2 linked regions of the Homo sapiens genome follow. The protein of the gene in region 2 interacts with the protein of the main gene of each other region in a pairwise test. Each region holds a gene or a part of one and is shown on either strand. Other genes may lie near its edges.

Region 1 (10,030 bases), on a different chromosome or scaffold from region 2:
GTTGTTTGACAAGGAAAATATGGAGAGACTGACCCCAAACCCTCAGCCCTGGCACTCTCACCATGGCAAGCGCTGACAGCAAAGCCAATTCGTTTTCGGGCCCGATCAAAGACAACGTAGAAGCCCTCCATGATAACAGCTCCCATAACAGTGCCCGTGGATGACTGTGAGATGGCAAACTTGTAACAGTCGTCTTGGGACGTGGCCACATCTTCCACTGGCCGCAGGTATTGCTAGGGGTAAGCAATCACAGGGTGAGTGTCTTCCTCACTCTCCTTCACCCCATCTCTGCCTTGTAGGCATCTATGCCCTTCCCTTTACCATCCCTGAGCTCTAACGGGTTTTCTGAGACCCCTTTACTGCTGGACACTACTCATCTGTTTTGTCTTCCAAGTTCTGGCAAGCCATACCTGCTCACTGTCTCCCAGTGTGTACTTTTAAGAGAGATCCCCCTGACTCAGGCTGGGACATACCTGCGGAAGGATGGTGATGCGGAAGGACTGGTTGGTAACCTCACCCATTAGGTAGAGTGAGATGACTGGGAAAATGTTCCAAGGGGTGGTGCCTGCTTGCCAGCACACCAGCTGCTCTCCTAGCCAGAAACCATCAGGGAACTTCTCCGTCTGTGTTGGCAAGAAGGGGATAACAATGAGGAAAAGCCTCTTTATCATCTCGCCCCTCCCATGTTCAGATACATTAACTGGGCCCTTCATTTGCTTTTCCAGTGAAATATCTAAAGTGGGGAGGGGTAAACCAACCAGAGGATTACAGGAAGAGAGAGGGAGTGTGATGTCAAACTTTTGTACCGGGGGATTGTGTGATGAGCAAAGTGACAGCCATAAAGGGGAAGAGTTTTTTTTTTTTTTTTGAAACAGTGTCTCACTCTGTTGCCCAGGCTGGAGTGCAGTGGCGCAATCATGGCTCACCGCAACCTCCACCGTCCTGAGTTAAAGTGATTCTCCTGTCTCAGCCCCCTGAGTAGCTAGGATTACAGGCGTGCGCCACCACACCCAGCTAATTTTTGTACTTTTAGTAGAGATGGGATTTCACCCTGTTGGTCAGGCTGGTCTTGAACTCCTGACCTAGTGATCTGCCCACCTTGGCCTCCCAAAGTGCTGGGATTACAGGCGTGAGCCACCACGCCTGGCTAGGGGAAGAGTGTTTTAAGAGCTCTGAGTAGAAGGGTCTAAGTGCAGACATCTTGGCTGTTGCTGAAGAATGTGACTCTCACCGCCTCCCTCTGACACTGTACCATCTCTTTTACCCCCATCCTTAGTCCACTCACGGAGGAGGCTGCCTTGATGGATTTGACTGCAGCTTCAAACACTTTCTTGGGCAAACGAAGGTTGGTGGTGCCACTGTCCACAATGCTCTTGTCATAGTTGTACTAAGAGGGAAAAGAGAGAGTTAAAAGAGTCAAAAGGTTTTTGATGCTGGGCTCTGGGCAGTAGGGGGTTACTGCTGGGGCCCCAGCTGGGTTGGCATCTTGGCTTTGGCACCTCCTAAGTGTACCTGCTTGGACAAGTTAACCTCTGTGCCTCAGTTCCTTCATCTCTAAAGTGAGGATAAAAATAGCACCTACCTCAAAGGGTTATTGTAAGGATTAAATAAATCAGCAATGTAAAGCACTTAGAATCGTGCCCAGCAGAGAGAAGGCACTTGGTAAATGTTTATTCTTGTTAATCTTGGGTGGGCAGGTAGTCTCCAAACTTGAAAATAAAAATACCTTGTTTAGTGCTTTTAACTTTTCTTTTCTTTTTTTTTTTTTTTTTTTTTTTTTTGAGATGGAGTATTAGCTCTGTCACCCAGGCTGGAGTACAGTGGCGTGATCTCGGCTCACTCTAACCTCTGCCTCCTGGATTCAAACCATTCTTTTGCCTCAGCCTCCCAAGTAGCTGGGACTACAGGTGCCTGCCACCACGCCTGGCTATTTTTAGTAGAGATGGGGTTTCACCATGTTGACCAGGCTGGTCTCGAATTTCTGACCTCAAATGATCTGCCCCCGCCTTGGCCTCCCAGAGTGCTGGGATTACAGCCACGCCCGGCCGCTTTTAACTTTTCTTAGTACATTTATATCTATTCTAATTTAACATACATAAGAATCTAGGGAAGGAAGACATAAATGATTTAGTTACCTTTTATTGAGTACTGCCAACCACAGAGATAAACACTTTACACATTATCTCTGATATTCTGAGAAAGTTGTTTTTACCTGTTTTGCAGATAAGGAAACTGAGACACAGAATAGTAACTGGCCTAAGGGTACATAGCTAGTACAAATCAGAGCTAGATTCAGATCTGGGTCTTCCTGACTCCAAAGACAAGACTCTTCATTCTATCACCCTGTCTCACAAAAGACTTGCCCAAGGCTACGAAGCAAGGCAGTGACTAGAGTCCAGACATCAGAACTAGTTCCATGTTTTTTTTTTCACTACCAGTCCCTAGGCCCCAAACCGCAGATCCTGCTGTGTGACCATTAAGCCCCTGACTGTTCTAGGCTCAACTTCCAACCCTTTCTGCAGGTCCTATTACCTCTGCCTCATCCTCCCAACATGATAACCAGAGTCTTCCTTCACATTGTACTGCCTACCCCCTTATGTTCCCAGGCTCTCCCTTGGTTTTCTTACCTCCTTGCAGTCCATTTTCAGATCCTGTCCATTGATCTCCACCCGCACAATGATCACCTCATAATACCACTCCCGCCGGATGGGTGTATACCAGAGACTGCCTGTGTACAGCGAGTGGTCGATACCTCCAATGATCTAGGGAAAAAAAGAGGCAGGTACCCGTGTCCTGGCACAGAAGGAGAGTGAGTCCCCCAAGGACCAAGCAATAAGATCAGTGATTTCTTGGGGTGGCAAGGTCTTCTACAGGCTACCCTTTTCATCTTCCTGCTTCTAAACAAATCATACCCAAAGTGATTTCTAGTTTCTTAAATGTGTTCAGGAGAAAAGACTTTCCGGGATTTTTAATTATTTGTTTCAGAATCATACAGCCCTTGATATAAAGTTATTTAAATCTAAACTGCCACAATAAATGTTGAATGAATGGTTATTTGTTTATATTATAAGTTTTATTTTCTCTGCTTATTGGAGAACCATTCACCATTGTTCTAATTAATTAATAAATAGACAAACTTCTTATATCTCTGCCTTCTGACCATCAAACTGAATAATTTTAATTCAACAGGTCTTATTTTCATTTCCTTTGAAATTTTCCTAATTGCCTTCCTTTCCAAGTTTACCATAGGTGCCTTGATTCCTTTCTGGAATAACGCAAAAAAGAAAAGAATGGAAAAATAAAGTAAGGGTAGGGAATATAAAGAGGTTCCTCCTGATTCTAAGTATCGGAGCCAAAACTGTGGTGTAGCTTTCAGGAAGGGGAGAGGATGGCACCCATCTCTCCCTCAATGCCAGGACCTCCCCTCTCTGAGGACCTACTCACCATGCTCCCTCCGACAGAGGCCAGCACTTCAGACTGGTTGAGGGGGAAGCCAGCACCACAAAGCTGCAGGGAGAAGAGGTTGGGAACGTGGGTCTGCTTTACCAGAGAGTCAAAGAAAGGCTCCAGGGAGTCGTCAGGCTTTGGCAGAAAGAGACAAGGAGTGAGTCCTCATACGGCCCTAAAGGCAGAGGCCAGCTTCCTGTCTAAACTGGAAGGCAAATTTGAAGGCTTGGGGGATGCTCCTTGGGAAAGACCATCTTAAGGCACTGAGATTTGGCAGAGGAAGGGTTAGCAGGAGCCCTGGCAATGCAAACAGGACAGTATTGATAGGTTCACAGATTCATAGATCTTTTTTTTTTTTTTGAGACAGAGTTTTGCTCTTGTTGCCCAAGCTGGAGTGCAATGTTACGATCTCGGCTCACTGCAACCTTCACCTCCTGGGTTCAAGTGATTCTCGTGCCTCAGCCTCCTGAGTAGCTGGGATTATAGGCATGCGCCAACATGCCCGGCTAATTTCTGTGTTTTCAGTAGAGATGGGGTAGATGGGGTTTCACCATGTTGGTCAGGCTGGTCTTGAACTTCTGACCTCAGGTCATCCGCTCGCCTTGGCCTCCCAAAGTGCTGGGATTACAGGTGTGAGCCACCACGCCTGGCCAGGTTCATATATCTTTGATCCCCCTATGCCTAACCTGCTTCAAATTTATGGGGGCCTTTATTAAAGATCTTAGAGTGGCTGGTCGCGGTGGTTCATGCCTGTAATCCCAGCACTTAGGAAGGCCGAGGTGAGCGGATCACCTGCGGTCAGGAGTTCGAGACCAGCCTGGCTAACATGATGAAACCCCATTTCTACTAAAAATAGAAAAAATTAGCCGGGCGTCATGGTGGGCGCCTATAATCCCAGCTACTCGGGAGGCTGAGGCAGGAAAATCGCTTGAACCGAGGAGGTGGAGGTTGCAGTGAGCCAAGATTGCACCATTGCACTCCAGCTTGGGCAACAAGAGTGAAACTCCGTCTCAAAAAAAAAAAGATCTTAAGAGTACATAGAAAGCACAGCCTATTCTTGTACCTATCACAGCTTCTGTCACTATGGTTCTGCCCTCTATAGGGCTAAAATTTAGACTGCCACCCTATACCCCTGTTAAATAATCCTTTAAACTGATTGTTGCCCTCCTTCTGCTAATTCCCCTTCTCTCTCCTAATTCCTTCTCTGTATAGTGCAGTGTGCATAGAGTGTGTAGGGCCAAGCCCTGTTCCTCTCACCCTGGCAATCTCAGCATAGGCCAGCCCCAGGATGCCTTCCCAGTTGGAGCCGTTGATGAAGAACTTGTCTGATTCAGTGATGGCAGCAATGTTGGCACGCACAGTGACGTTGGGGCCATGGGGGATGCTTACCAGGTCGGTGCCCAGCTCCCCTTCCCACTTGCCCTGGGTGTAGGGCACATACACACCCTTCCGGAGGTCCCGGTATGTGCTGGACCTGTGGAAAGAAGGCAGAGATCTGTGGATGCATAACCACAACTGGTATAAGGATCTAAGTTAAACTTACTCCCAAACACCACCTTATCTCATCTCAGGGGAATCCTAGAGTCTGCTTTCAGGCTGCTCAGCAAAACATCCCTAGACTCACCACCCAGAACAGAGTGTAAAGTGGGCTTGCAGATAGATGAAGGGAACCATTGGTGAGGCTTGCTCTCCTATCTATTGCTCATATTCCTAGATCTTGAGCTCAGGCCCTGTGAAGAACAAGCCTGGGCTTTGTGCATTGTGCCTGCTGCTGCTGCTGCTGCAGGGACAGCTAGTGGGCATCTCTTCCGCCCTCTGGCTCCGTCAAGCTCCCCGAGAAAAGGAACCATTGACTCTCTTACTGCCTTGGAACCTAGTGGTACCATCCGAGTGGTAGAGAAAGTGCCAGGCAGGGTGAATGTGGAACCTCTACAGCAAGTTCTAGAGAAGGGGTTTGTTCAAGCATCTCAGAAAAGCAGGTTGGTATTACACACCACTTCTGTGAAACGTGCTCAACATGTGGCAGCCCCACCTGTGTTTAATCACACCACTAACCAGGGCTTCTGTGTGTGGTGGGGGCAGTGATGGAACTGGAACGAGGAACTGGAGTGAATGCCCTTTCATCGATCCTACCTGCACCCTCCTCCCTGACTGCTTCTTTTAGATTGGGACATTAGAGGAAACAGGGAAGGTGCGTTTTGCAGCTGCCTACAAGTCCAAGGATAGGATTTAAGCCTCTACTCACGTTTGCACACACTGATGTCTCAGATATTGGTGTCCTCTCATCCCTTCTTCTTCCTGCTTTTATGCTAAGGGGGCTTCCAGATTACCCCTCACTGCCTCTTATCTTAAAGCCCACTTCAACCCCCCTTTCACCAGTCCCCCACTTTCACCAGTCCTCTTCAACCCCCCTTTCACCAGTAAGCTGAATCCAACTGGTGGCACCCTGGGTGGTGCATGGAGGAGATATTTCAGCTTTCAGTTCTGATACTGGTCTAGGCAGAGGGGTTTATGAAAGACCCTTTCCTTCATGTCCTTGGACTATGCAAAGCCACCTAGAGTGGCCCCTGGGTAAGAACACAGCAAGGGGAGCCGTCACTGAGGCCTGTTCAGCTTAGACTTAGCTGGTGTTAGAGAACTGAGAGACACCGAGGGGATGTGGGGTTTTCGTCTCCCCATTCAGGCAGAGAAAATGGGCCCCCTAAGATTGTTCTGTGAGCTATGGGCTCTTCTTCCTTTCCCTCCCACAGGAGGCTGCCCTGTCTCAGCACTGAAGCACTTCCTGGCTACCTCTCAATTCACCCTTTCCCATGGTATAGCTCCTCTCACCACCCACTTCACCCTGTCTCTCCTGGTCACTGTCTTTTTTTCGCCCTTCCCCTTCCCTGGCAAGAAGAAAATCTGAGGATCAACTCTTTCTCTCTGTACCCCTCCCCTGACCCTTCTTAGCCCTGGATCCTTGGAAAAGGTACTTCCCCCGGGCTCTCCCCAGGACTCACAGCTGCCTCTGGTAGTAGCGATGCAGGAAGGGGTGGGGGGCAGCACCCACTGCAAAGTTACTGCTGCCTGTATCCACCAGGATGTTGAGCTGTCAGAGAAAGGGGAGAGAAAAGACAGTATAGACAGGAGGCTTCGGTCACACCACCTTTATTATCCCTCACGCCCCAGCCACAGTCTGCCCCTTAGAATGTCCAGAGTGAAGCTCCACGATGCAGGACTGGTCCAGGCTGGCACCCGTTACCACCACGACCACAGACAGGACCTGGGGTCCTGTGGTGCTGCAGGGGCCAAAGGAACACTTCCCCTGTGCCCTCTGCAGGTCTGCTGAAAAACCAACTGAAAAAAGGCAGATTAGTAGAAGAACTAATATGCAAGGGAGTCAAAAAAATATAGGAAGTCAAAGAGATAGCCAGATGGTTGATGATTTTATACCATCTTGAGGTTACAGAAAGAATGGGAGCTTGGGCAAGGTGCAGTGGCTTACCCCTGTAATCCCAGCACTATGGGAGGCTGAGGCAGGTGGATCACCTGAGGTGAGGAGTTTGAGACCAGCCTGGCCAACAGGACGAAACTCTGTCTCTACTAAAAATACAAAAATTAGCTGGACATGGTGGCACATGCCTGTAGTCCCAGCTACTCAGGAGGCTGAGGCATGAGACTCACTTGACCCTGGGAGGTGGAGGTTGCAGTGAACTGAGACCATGCCACTGCACTCCAGCCTGGGCGACAGAGACCCTGTCTCAACAACAAAAAAAAAAGGGACTTGGACTTTGGCAAAAATAGTTATGGGAGGGATAAACGGAGGCCAGGCCAGTAAAAGTGGTCTTTTTATATGAATGAAACCTCATAGGTAACACCCCTCAGAGAAAACAGGTGATGTATGTGTCTTTCAGACCTTTAAACATGTCAGACTTTCAGTTAATCTTTCCTAGATTTGGACCAGGGAGGGCCTCAGAGAAAGCCAGGTTGCATCAATGCAGATTCTCTGCAGATGCAAATCTCCCTCAAAAGCCAGATTTGCAGGGCCACTTCTGTGTGCTGGCCCTCTGACAGCCGACTCAAAATACGTCAAAGTAGTATATTCTGGGGTAAAATATCTTGGTTTCCTTTGGCACCCTCAACATGGCCTTAGAAATGCTGTGTCTGAGGCCAGCACAGTGGCTCACAACTGTAATCCCAACACTTTGAGAGGCTAAGGCGGGTGGATCACTTGAGGTCAGGAGTTCAAGACCAGCCTGGTGAATGTAGTAAAATCCCATCTCTACTAAAAATACAAAGATTAGCCGGGTGTGGTGACGCACGCCTATAATCCCAGCTACTTGGGAGGCTGAGGCAGGAGAATCACTTGAACCCAGGAGGCGGAGGTTGCAGTGAGCCGAAATTACACCACTGCACTCCGGCCTGGACGAGAGCAACACTCCGTCTCAAAAAAAAAAAGAAAAGAAAAGAAACGCTGTGTCTGCTTCAGTCTATGGAGTCATAACATTTTGTGCGTCATCTCAGAGCTATGTGGTGTGTGTGCTGTCTCTGTTCCCATGTCTCTCTACCGTCACATCACCCCTGCTCACTGTGTACCTGACTGATTCTGTCTTCAGGGCCCCCTGCTCCTTTTCAATTCTCCCAGGAAGCAGTCTGGCTTATCCCCTCCAGCTCAGAGAAGACCTATTCTAGGAGCTGTACTGGTCAGGGGACCTGTGGGGACCAGGATGGCACATCAGTGTCCATGCGTGTGGTTCTGTCCCTGCCACCAGAATGTGGCTCCCCTTCTGTCTCACAGGTGACACAGACCTAGGAATCCTACTGTCAGAAATAGTGGGGAGCCAGGAGCCCCATAAAATGTCCTGGTGAAAACCCATCTTGTCAGGGCCCTGGATTTGGCTAAGTGAAGATGGACAGGTGTCTTGGTGTTCCCTTCTGTCCAGCTCTTTCTAGCATCACTTCTTTTTTTTGAGATGGAGTTTCGCTCTTGTTACCCAGGCTGGAGTGCAATGGCGCGATCTCGGCTCACTGCCATCTCCGCCTCCTGGGTTCAAGTGATTCTCCTGTCTCAGTCTCCTGAGTAGCTGGGATTACAAGTGTGCGCTACCACGCAGGGCTAATTTTTGTATTTTTAGTAGAGACGAGGTTTCACCACGTTGGCCAGGCTGGTCTCGAACTCCTGACCTCAGGTGATCCACCTGCCTCGGCCTCCCAAAGTGCTGAGGCGTGAGCTACCATGCCCGGCCTCTAGCATCACTTCTCCTTGGCCCTTTCTTCCTCCTTTGATGGCCTGACCCCACCTTCAGTCAGACCAGAGCCATTTTTTGAAAGTCTACTATATCCTCACAGGCAAAAAAAGGAAAGGCCCCACCCTCAGAAAAATGGTAATTTGTAAGTTGCATCTCGCCTCTTGCCGACTTTCCATCACCTCAGGTTCTCCTCTGCCCCAGGGGCCTTCATTTCTGTATCTTCTCTCCTCAGTCCAGTGAAATCAACTGACCTCAGTTTTGGTGCAGGCCCTGACCCTGTCACCTTGAGCAGATCACTGTGCTTCTCTGGACTTCAGTTTCGTCCTCTCTGCCAGATCCTCTCTGGCTCCTTCCTGCTCTCCGTGGTGCCTCTGTGGCTGTGCTGACTGTGCCCTCCCCCAGTGCCTGCTTAGACCTCCTGGCCTCCTCACATCCCCAAAGACTCCTCTGACAATCTCCCGGCCCTCAGACCTTGTCTCCTCCCTCCTTCCCAGCCCCCCACTCCTGGCCTGGTTTCCATTCCCCTCCCTGCCCCTCTTCCCCTACCTCTACCCGTGGTCTCTCTCCCCGGTCTCTGGGCAGCCACCAGCTCCAGATGCTGTGCTTTCAGAGAAAATCAATAGAGCTGGGAGGCTCAGCAGTTCAGATGAAATCAACCAGGTTAATGATTAAGAAGGCTTCTTCACCCACCCTCTCCCCACGAACCCTCTTCCCCATTCTCAGGACTCAGCTCCCAGCATGGGGGGCTGGCCTCATATTACAGGGCTCCCTGCTATCACTGGACCCCAAAGAAAGAGGATCTCCTCCACAACAAGTCTCTGTGGCCTGTGCAAGGGAGGGAACATCCGGCAAGTTCTAAGCAAATATGGCTACTGCTTTACACTGGAGTGGAGCTTTGACCTGGGGGCTCCTGCTGTCCCTGCCCCTCCCTGCCTCCCCCTTCCTCTCCTGCGAGGCAGGAGGGAGCTCTCTGCAGGGTACTCCCACCCCAGCCCTGAGGCCCTGGGCGCTCTTGCTGTCCTTCCAGCCCCAGCCTTTCCCCCTGCCACCCCAAAGGGGGCCAGGCCGAGCCCAGGAAGGAACGTCCCCCTCCACTCCCATCCCTCTCACCCACCCCAATACTACGATTTCAGGTCCCCACTGCTCTCTGCCTCCCCTCTCCACCTTACACACACACACAAAAGAAAACCAGAATAAACAGTTGGGCTTCTCTCCCGAGCAAATGTCGACCCGTCTGCCCTCTGCGGTGTGCTCCCGCCCGAGAGAAGTAATTCTGGTCCTGTCCTTCAGCGCTTCGAATGGGAGCCCTGGCCAGTCCCGGCAGCCTTTTCCCCACCCCTGCTCCATTCCAAGCG
Region 2 (10,180 bases):
CTGAGCAGGAGGCAAGTCCTCTTTTAGTGCATGTGTTGGCCAGAGCTCCATCCAGATATTCACATCAGGATGAACAACCAGAAGGCTGGAAACTAGGGGTGGTTTCCTGCCTCTGCTATTAGTTAAATGTCTTTGGCAAGAAACTTAATGTCTCTGAATCCTGGTTTTCTCAATGTTTAAATGGAAGAATTAACCTTGCTCCATCATAAACTTCAAGACCTCAACTGGAATGCCTGGGCTGATGTGATTCCATGTCAAAGGGGCAAAGCACCCTGGGTTCCTGGGAAGACTTCCAGGGGCAGGCCAGGCTCTGAGCTTACTCAAAGAGGCCCCCTGGCTTGGCCATTCAGCAGTGAGTTAGGAAGAAAATAAACTCAATGATATGTGGGGTGCCACCTGGAATTCCAGAGGGGAAGAAGAGCAGGTGAAAAGCCCCTAGAAGTCCCAGAATGCTCAGAAATAGGGCCTAGCTCCCCTAACCACCTCATCTCATCCCTGCTTCCCTGGTTTGTCCCCTTTCCCCATCTCTATCTCTATCTCTCCTCCCCGACCCCCAACTTTGAAAGAGTCTGAATGATGTGTGCCTGCCCTCTCTCCCCTAATGCAGACAGCCAAGTGCTAACACTAGCAAGGTTAGTGACCTACATGAGAAGTCTGTAGAACTCACAGCAGACCCAGGCCAGGGGCATCACTATGCCCTCACCTTCTTAGCCAGTCTCAGGGCTGCAAGGAAAGAAACCCAGACAGTTGCCTCTAGCTTTGTTGTCAGTCCTGAGAAAGATCCCTGCCTTCTCGTGGCTGCCTGCAGCCCCAGCCCGGTATGCCATGGCCCCTGAGACCTCTGCTCCTCCCTTCTCTTCCAGGCAGAAGATGCATCTGCCCTGGCCTGGCATTTATGCCAGCCTGGCTTTTCCCTGCAGGCCTGTTCCCCAATTCCCTACCCTGCCTTCTTCTATGACTAGGAAGGAGTCCAGCACAGGGGTGCTGGGAAAGGGAGGGTGCTCTGAGACTCATTAACATGACAATTTGGGATGCTGGAGGAACCAACCAGGTTCCACAGCAAGCAGCAGTCCCCAGACCCAACAAGTTACATTGCTCTTTCCTGTCTCCCAGACAGACTCCAGCCAGGCTTTAGGCTGCTGACCATGAGATCCGACACCAGCCCCCAGAGTTTTCTTTCTTTAAAGAATCTAAAGCCATCCTTCAGGGATTTTTTTTTTTTTTTTTTTTTTTTTTTAGCTGTCGAAGCATAATGGGGGAAGCACCTCCCCCGTTCTCCCCTTTCACCTAAAGGAGTTAGGGAAACTGGATTTACTTGGGGAGGAGGCGGTAGGTCTTGCCTAAATCAACCTGTGCTTCCCCCTTCCCTCATACACCCATTTCAAGCAGTAACCTGAACCAGGGCTTTCTGGAAAGACAGTTTGTGCTGCAGCAGAAAGAAAAGAAGCGGCAACAAAAATCTGGTATCATCACCAGGAAGCCTGTGGCTGGCCACTGGCCGTGGGAGCCTGCAGAGCCTAGAACGCTAGGCCCTTCGTGTTTAATTCTCCTCTCACCCCAGCTGAGGCCAGGACATCCCAGGTGTGCAGGAAGCCTCAGGGGCATGGTATCCTCCCTGGCAGAAAGAATGCCTTTCTTAAACCTGGAAAGGAGGCCGGATTGTGGTCTCAGCTTTGCCTCTTCTGAGCTTAAGATGCTGAAGCCTATATCCTCCTCTCTGAAGTGCATAGTTGTGAGCACACTGAGCTGCTGGGAGGATGTAAATGAGGTGGCACGGCATGGAAGCATCTAACAAAACCCACCCTAGTTTCCTTCCTCTCAACCCTGCCTGCCCCCATCAGAAGACCAAATTCCAGCTCTTCCAGGACCGTAGTCCTGTGTGGAGTGGAGGGCAGCTGAAGATAGGGCAGCCTGTGCAGACCAAAGAAGGGGGTGGAGGAGCTGAGCTGGGCACCCCACTCACTGGAGGGGATGCGGCAAAGCAGGCAGCTGGGACTGGGTCCAAGTAGTAAGTCAAGTGTGTGCAATCTCCTGATGGAGCGTGCAGGGGAGAGGGTGGGAGTGTGTAATTCCCCTGCGAGCCACGGAGGGGGGTTGAGAGGAAGGCGGGAACAATCTGCGGTGGTAAGGTAAGTCAGGCTCGGTCCCTGCTCCTCCCGGCCCCTACCCACCACCCACCACGGACCCCTTGCAGACCCAAGATGGGGAGACACGGGCTCCTGCCACTCACCCTAGCGGCCCGGGAGGAGTAGGGATCCTCGAAGAGCGCCCACATGCGGGGCTGCCAGCCGCGGCAGCCCCCAGACCCGGCGCCATGGCCCGCGCCTCCCTCGTGGGGGCCCAGTCGCTGCAGGGCCAGCTCCCGCTCATCGTCGCCGGCCTCGTCGCTGGGCCCCGCGCCGCTGCCGCCTCCGTCCGGGCTCTCGAAGATGTCGAGCGCCTCCTCGGCGTCGCGGTGCTGCCGGTAGGTCATCCAGCAGCAGGGTTCCACGTCGGTCTCGTCGATGCCCCAGAAGGTGAGCTCCTCTTCGAAGAGCGGCCCGCACACGTCCGCGGGGCAGTGCAGCTTGCCGGTGCGGTAGTAGTTGAGCACGTAGGCGAAGACGCCCGGGTGCCTGTCGAAGAAGAACTCGCAGCCCCCGCCGCCGCTGCTGCCGCTGCTACCCACACCGCCGCCATCGGTCTCGGGCCGGCCCCCGCCGTCGGGGTCGGCCAGCCAGGCGAGGCGGGTTCCCGGTAGGGTGCGCAGGGTGCTGCGGTAGGTCTCATGTCGCGTGCCGCCCACGTTGATGATGATCTTCTCCGACGCCTCGCCCTTGGCCATCTCCTCCTTCAGACATGTTTTGGACGGAGGCTTGTTCCCCGACTTGCGCCCGCGGTAGGAGGAGACACACACCGAGCTGATCATAAGAAGCGCTGCGGGGCTCCGGCTTGGGGCGGCCGCTGCCCTCCAAACACCCTTCCCGAGGAGGCAGCGTCAGACGGGGGAGGGGGAGGAGACGAAGAGGAGGCAGGAGGCGGTGGCGGCCCCCTCTGCGGCTTGGGCTTGCCCCTGCCTATCCCCCTAGGACGCGGAGCGGGAGGAGTTGGATTTCTCCGGTACACAGGTGGTTGGGGTTAGGGCAGGAAGCTCCGGAGAGAGGGAGGCGCAGAGAGGGAGGACCCGGGGAAGTAGAAGCAAGCACACACGCGGTCCCCCGCTACGACGGGACACACAAACGCTCTGGGCCGGGGACACGCCCCCGCCTTCACCCCGACCAAAGACGAGGAAGCGCACAGTCCACGCGCACCGCGAAGGTCCGGGGCGCTCGCGCTCACACGGGCCACCCTCCGGCTCCAAGACCGCACCAAGCCCCGGAATAGCCGGCTTCCCCGCAGCGGCGGCAGCGCAGCAGCAACAAGTCCTCCGAGCGGCTGCCGGGGCCAGGCCGACACTCTCACGGCAGCCGGAGCTCCGTGGGCCCGGGCTGCTTGCGGTCAACACGAGGCGGCGGCGGCGGCATGTGGCCTCTTCCCCCCATTCATAAATCCAGCGCCGGGCGAGGAAGGCAGGCGGGGCAGAGCAGAGAGCGGCGGCCGGGCGGGCGGGGGCTGCGCAGGGCGAGGCGGCAGCTGGAAAACAAGCGCGCCCGCAGGAGCGAGCCTCGGGTCCTGCGTCCGCGGCTGGGAGCTGCGCCGGACCGGGCGCAGCGCTGCGGGGGCCGCGCTGGGGCGGGGGTGCCTCAGACGGGGCGTCCTGCGCGGCGCCGAGCCTGGGGGGCGGGGCCGCTCTGGGGAGCCGGGCTCTGGGCACTGGCGAAGGTGTACCGGGGGCGGCGGCCGAGCGGCCAAGGACACCTGCAGGCTTCCCGGGCCGCGCGGAGAGGGAGCCTCAGCGCAACGCCCCGGCGCCTGGTTCCTGCGATCTGGCGGCGCTGGGAGCCACGCCATCTACGCGTCTGCCCATCTCCGGGCGGGGCGCCGGCCTTGGCTCGCGCGCGGCAGGGGGCGGGCGCGAGGTGGCATAGGGGAGGGGGCGCCTCGGCGCCGGTGGGCTGGGGCCCTAGGGGCTCATGGTCTCCCTCCGGCGCTGGCAGCGGCCGCCACGCCCCAGTGGCGCCTTTTCCTCCGGGGCCCCGCCTCGCCCAGACGCGCCCTTCGCGGGGCGGGGTGGGCGGGGCGCGGCGCAGCGCGGGGCCGATCCGACTCACTGCAGGCCCTGGCGACCGAGCGCAGTCTTCCTCCCCGGAGCCGAGCCCCAACCAAGCGCGTCACCTCCTCGCCGCCAGTGCCCAGCCCAGCGCGCCGCCCCTGCGCGCTTCCGCCGGCAACCCCTCCCGCCCCCCTCAGCCCTGCTCCGCGCCTCCCCCGGGCCCGCAGCTCCTCCCACCGCAGCCCGCTGACACCGAAGCGCTCTCGACCCCTGACCTCTAACCTCCGCCCGGCTCTTCTTGCTTCGTCCCTCGCCCCCTCCCCGCCAAGCTGGTCGCACTGTTGCCGTTTCACTGCGGCTGACGGAAGGCCAAGGAAGAAAGAGGGTAGAGACGCTGTCGCGAGGATCAGGCTGCCCTCTCCTTTCCCAGGGACCGTGTTGGGGCCTTCTGACCACCCCGCCCCGCATCCTGCGCCTCGGAGGCCCAACGTAGCCCAAGACACCCATGGTCTTGATGCTCTCCGCCTCTGTCCCAGCCACCAAAGTCCCCGCGATGGAATGGAGGACGGGGTGGCCTTGGGCAGAGAAGCGCTTCTTGTGCCGGATGGAAGGAAACCGTAGCTCTGGCTGTGTTCATCGCGAAATGTTTTATGGATGTGGAGTGGGTGGGTGGCCCTGAAAAGTCATTAGTTAAAGCCTTTGCTCGTCATTGCTCTGGGGTCCACATAGGAAATGCCCGTGTCCTGCCTCATGACCCCTTCCTGTTTCTACTCTTATTCTACCCATTACAATTTGACTTTGCCTGTGTATATGTCTCCTCTCCCCTCCCTAACCCTGAGCTCCTGCAGGCGGCATTGTGCTTTTTCATCTTGATAGCTCCCACAGTGCCTGCCTCTGAGAACCTGTTTGCTAAGTGATTGAGAAGCTGCCATACCCAAAACGTAGGCACCAACAGGACTTTACTGGCCCTATCCCAAGAGCAATTTCCAGATTCATTTGTTTTTGTTAAGTCCAGAACCTATTTTACATCTTCATATTAATCCCCATTGGGTTTTTTTTTCTTTTTTACAGCTTCAGGCAGCCTCCATGCCTGTCTGGATGATGTAAAGAGATCTTGAGGCAGAAATGAAAGGTGAATGACACACCTGCCCTGGACACCTGTGCACCTTCCCAGTTCCAGATCAGGCAGTACCTAGCTCAACTGAGAAAAACAAGACAAGGGCCTATGTGTGTCTCAGGAAAGGTTAAAAGCTCAGTGCCAATGCAAGGGATTTTTACAAGCAAAAGTCTCATTATTAATGAGGCCAGAAAACCAAAATGACAATGATCTTTGATGATCTGTACTGACACGCAGGGGAGGTGAGTTAATCAGAAACACACATTTACTGGCACCCCCTTTGTGCCCAGTCCCTGCTCCTCGAAACTGATGTTTGTATTTCAGAGTTTAGCTGTCTTTGAGTTTGCTGCAGTGAAAAGAAATATCCCAAGTGTGACTGGGAAGAGAAGACCCGGGACAGGCCAGAAACTGGAGTGAGGAAGAAAGAACCACAGAATATTAATGTAATGAATAACTTTCAAGTCCTATCTGGTCCGTGTCCTGGCAAAGTCCCTTGGGGTCTCTCCCCTGCTTTCCGTTCATCAGGATGACTGAGCTCAGTAATTGTAACAAAGGGAGTGTAGTAGGCAAGGGGACAAAACCCATAGTATCCCACCCCTGATTGACTTATTAACTCAATGAACACTTATTGAATACCTACGATATGCCAGAAGCAGTTCCGGGTACTGGAAATACATCAGTGAATAAAACAGCCACTCATCCTAGTAAATCTGCCCAACTGGTGCTTCCACTCTGCGGTGCTTGTGGATAGTGATGAGCACCTGGGGAGATGGGTAAAGGGAGAAAGCTGCCAGGGAAAAAGGAGGCCAAGAGGGAAGGGAGGAAGATCAGAAAGTTGGGACACAGGCATAGGAACCTAGGAAGAGCTGACAAAAACAGAGGGCCCAGCCTGAGAGAGGCAGCTGGGTAAAGGTGCATGGGGCCAGGACTCCCAGCTCTGTGCACTGACCAGCTCGGGAGAGGGGAGCTCAGCCTCAGTCCTGAGGCCTCCAGAGAATGCCTCACCCTTGCTGAAGGTTTATTCTAGAACTCTGGGCTCACCTGTTACGTGTACCTCTCTGAGGGAGTCGATATGCTGCAGTTAGCACTATGGGACTTGTCCCCATCATTTCTTTGTGTGAGGTCTTGGTGTTCCCTCAAAACACAGAGCCGGGGAAGGATAGGAGAGCCCCCTGCCCAGGCTACTGTGACACAGCCTACCATGGATGTGAGGGTGCTGCCCTCTGGTGGTGCTAGAACATCCTGGCTCCAGACCTCGCCCTGAGCTCTGGGGGCTGTGATGTGGGCAGATGGGGTGGCAGCTGATTCTGGGCTTCCTGTTGATTCCAGGACCTCAGGTACATCTTCTAGCCTAACTCTGCCATTGGGACTCTGCCTACTCCCTCCCTTCTTCATTCCTCCAAGACCTTGATACCTGACAGGCTTAAGCAAGACCACAAAGCAGCCACTATTGGAAATTCCTAGTTCCCCAAGCTTCTTTCCCTCATTTTCACCTTTTCTCTTTTGTCCTCTCCTTAGTGCCCTGGCTTCTTCAGGCTGTCAGGGAAGAGCACCTGTCTGAAAGCCAGTTCACAGAAGGTGTCAGCCACAGCGGGTTTCCCTCATCAGGGGTGAGGGTGTGGTGAAAGAATAGGAAGAGAGGGCCATGGGAGATTCTAAAGGGGCACCGATGGAGGCTGTCAAGCACCTGCACCCTTTCCAGGCCCCCCCTCCACCCGCATAATAAGGTCCTCACCCTCTGAGTGCCGACGCTGACCCTGTCCGTAGGAAGCTGAAAGCCTGAAATCAAAGCCGTTTACCCTTCCCCTTTCCCCACTGGGAGCTTTGTATGGGCTCAGCCTCTTTAGGATGACTGGAGCCATCCAATCTCCTCTCCATCTTCCTTCTTTGAAACCTGTTTGTGGTGAGGGGCTCCAGGCCAAGGCAAGGTTCTATCCATTGGTGCTCACACTTTCCCTTTTTGGTATTCTAGCTCCTGCCAGGGACTGACCCTCCTTCAGGTCCAGGCCAAGGAGCCAGCATCCTTTCCCAGCATGCCTCACTCTCTCCCAGCCTGGAAAATTGAATTGCTTTATCAGACTCATTAGAGGGTGATAGGGCCTCCCCGCTCATGGGGGAACAAGAGAAGGGAAGGCAAGAGCAGGCTGGCAGCCTCCTGTCTGCGTCTCAGCTCACTTCATCCTGCCTCCCCCAACCCCAAGCAGCCTGCAGAGACTTGCAGGCTCCAAATCAAATGTGAGAGCCTTCTTTGGGGGGAGGGGGGTTGGTGGGGGAGGGGCTCTGGGGAGAACCTAGCCCTAGTAATTCAGGTCTTGTGAAGATCAGTAGAATGGCTCTGCCTCAGGACTGAAAGCAGGGTTGGGTTGCTGTGGTAATCCCAGTGAAGTTGTATCTGGGGCTCAAAGGTGGCCTTTGAAGGCCCAGCTCTTAAAGAGAAGAGATCAGAAGCTCGGGCCTGGGCAGGGCTCAGGGCCTCATACACTATGGACCTGGAGTCATAGGGTTGGAGGGGACCTGAGTGTTAGCTCATGGACACCTTCCCCCCGCTTAGGGATGTCAGGCCTAAGCAGCAGCAGCGAACTCTGAGAGACGGAGCTAGGGCTGGTGTTGGGCCAAGGACAGAGAACGATACGGGGGCCACCAGCTGAGTGGACCCTAGAGGCCTCCTTGTTTAAGGCTCCTGGGCTGGGAACTCAGCCTGCATCCAGACAGCACACTCCCGCCACCGCGCCTGCCACATGCACGCTAGCCCAGGGTCCGGCTGGCAAGACCTCTTGACACTTAGCATTTCTCCATCTAGAAAAGTAGAGATTGCTCCCACCTGGGCTAAGTTCCAGGAAAAACTGGTTCATTCCATTAGAGGAGTTAATTAGTCCTGATGGGCCCAGTCCCCTCCAGCAATATCCTGGGGAAAGGGGAAGCAGGTGTCTGGAGAGACAGGCCAAACTCAGGTTCCTCTTGGGTGCTCCTGAAGTCCAGGGATTCTTCCCTGCTTGGGTCAGCCCTGGGCAGAATGGAGGGACCCAGAACCCAGGCAGCTCAGACCCAGGGACAGAGAGCAGATCCCCACTGAGTCTTTATGCTCTGCAGCCAGGACTGTGCCTGGCATGGATCAATCTTTGTAAGGGTTTGTGGTTGAATGACAGGCATAGTCTTCTCCCATCTCAAGGTTTCTTCCCACCTAAGATGATGTAATTAAAGAATGCAGCAGCGTGCCTGGCACCAGTGAGTGTGCCAGGAAGGGAGATGCCCAAGTCAGATTGTGACTGCCTCTGCGAGCCAGGGACTCTTGCCTGGTCCTTTGTATATTCCCAGTGCTCAGCACAATCCCAGGCACTCAAAATACCTGATTCATGCTTGCTTGATGCATGGAATTAATGAGGCGGGGGGTGGCGGGGGAGGAGTCCTCCCTGTCAGTTTCTTGCTGTGTGGCAGAGAGTGCACTAGATTGGGAGTCAAGAAACCCAGGCATTGGCCCCGATCTTCCCCTTGCTTGGTTGTGGGAAGTCTGGTCTTTTCCTCTTTGGGCCTCCGTTTCCCCCATTGTTGTACAAGGAGGTTTGACCAGATAATCACTAAGGTTCATATTCTGGTTACTATTGTTATGAAACAAATTACCCCTAGTATGTAGTGATATAAACCCAACAGCCATTTTATTTTGTTTATTATTTTATGGGTCAGGAAATAAGGAAGGGCTCAGTTGAACAGTTCTTGCTTAGGGTCTCTTATGCAGCTACAATCAGATGTCAGCGGGCTGCAAACATCTGAAGCTCAGCTGGGCTAAACGTTCAGTATGCTGTGTTCATGTGGCTGGCAGTTGACACTGGCTGTTGGCTGGAAGCTCAGCTGAAGCTGTCAACCTAAGCATCTGCAAACATATCGCCTCCCTAGCATGGCAGTCTCAGGGTGGTTGGCTGTCTTACATGGCAGCTGGCTGCCTCTAGAATGAGTATCCCTAGAACACCAGGTGGAAGTGGCACGGCCTTTCCTAATCTAGCCTTGGAAGTCACATAGCATCACTTCTACTATACCCTGTTGGTCACAGGAAGCATTTGCTCACCCAGATTCAAGAGGAGGAGCATAGACTCCACTTTTGATGGGAGAAGTATTAAAAAGAATTTGGGGCCAACCAACAACAAAGAAAACAAAAACAAAACCCCACAATAGCCTTGTGGTCTGTGGAATACTTTAGCCTTGGCCCAAGTCCCTATGACTGGAGCTGTCTGGTGGTGACTGCTGGGGTGAACATGATAATGTACAGGATCAGTGAGACCCCCACACTCTGGTACTCCCTTTCCTGGAGAGAGTTCCTTTTCTGCCTTCCTTCCTTGGCTTCTCTGGATTTTAGGCTGAAACTGTCCTTTGTGAATAGCTTTAGGAGATGGCTCATTGCATGGGTGATGGGGCCCCCAGAATGAAGTAGGCCCCATGGCCTTGCCCAGGATCGCAAGAAGGAAGGAAGGAAATATTTAATGAGCACCTATTGTATCCCCATATGGAAAGAAGTCGATACTGTATTCCAGTAGATGTTACTGATGAAGTTCATTTTTCCCTCATACCATCTCTAAGGAAGAGATTTTATTGTCGTCCTCCTTTTACAGATCAGAAAATGGAGATTCCAGGGTTAAAGTGGCTTCCCCAAGGTGGTATGGTTGGCGACAGACCCATGATTCAAACCACTCATGCCACCTGCCCTGGGGCAAACCTGAGGCAGAAGCAGTGGCCTCACCTGTCCTCCTGCATGCCCTTCTCATCCTCCTCTGACTGCTCCCTCCACCCAGGGCCCAAACTTAACCACTCACCTCCCCACCAGAAATGACCTGCTGTGTGTCCCAGTTCTGTGTCTCTAAGCTGACATCCCCTCAGGAGAAGGCTTCCATGCATGTGCAGGTGACTGATGACAAAGATCCCTAACACTCTAGAATCAGCCC

Evidence for each region.
Region 1: the proteins of KCNC4 (region 2) and BACE1 interact in binary tests that used the Homo sapiens proteins (3 or more experiments, as listed by UniProt).

Annotation. Positions count from the first base shown.
Region 1 is NC_000011.10:117,290,427-117,300,456, forward strand, and holds part of BACE1 (beta-secretase 1 isoform A preproprotein), read right to left. Parts: intron 9,297-10,030; exon of another isoform or gene 9,222-9,296; intron 6,536-9,221; coding exon 6,447-6,535; intron 5,148-6,446; exon of another isoform or gene 5,122-5,147; coding exon of another isoform or gene 5,072-5,121; intron 4,922-5,071; coding exon 4,705-4,921; intron 3,583-4,704; coding exon 3,445-3,582; intron 2,763-3,444; coding exon 2,628-2,762; intron 1,745-2,627; exon of another isoform or gene 1,388-1,744; coding exon 1,286-1,387; exon of another isoform or gene 920-1,285; intron 624-919; coding exon 474-623; intron 234-473; coding exon 62-233; intron 1-61. UniProt on the Homo sapiens protein: Responsible for the proteolytic processing of the amyloid precursor protein (APP).
Region 2 is NC_000001.11:110,204,228-110,214,407, reverse strand, and holds the start of KCNC4 (voltage-gated potassium channel KCNC4), read right to left. Parts: upstream 4,095-10,180; 5' UTR 2,909-4,094; coding exon 2,231-2,908; intron 1-2,230. UniProt on the Homo sapiens protein: Voltage-gated potassium channel that opens in response to the voltage difference across the membrane, forming a potassium-selective channel through which potassium ions pass in accordance with their electrochemical gradient.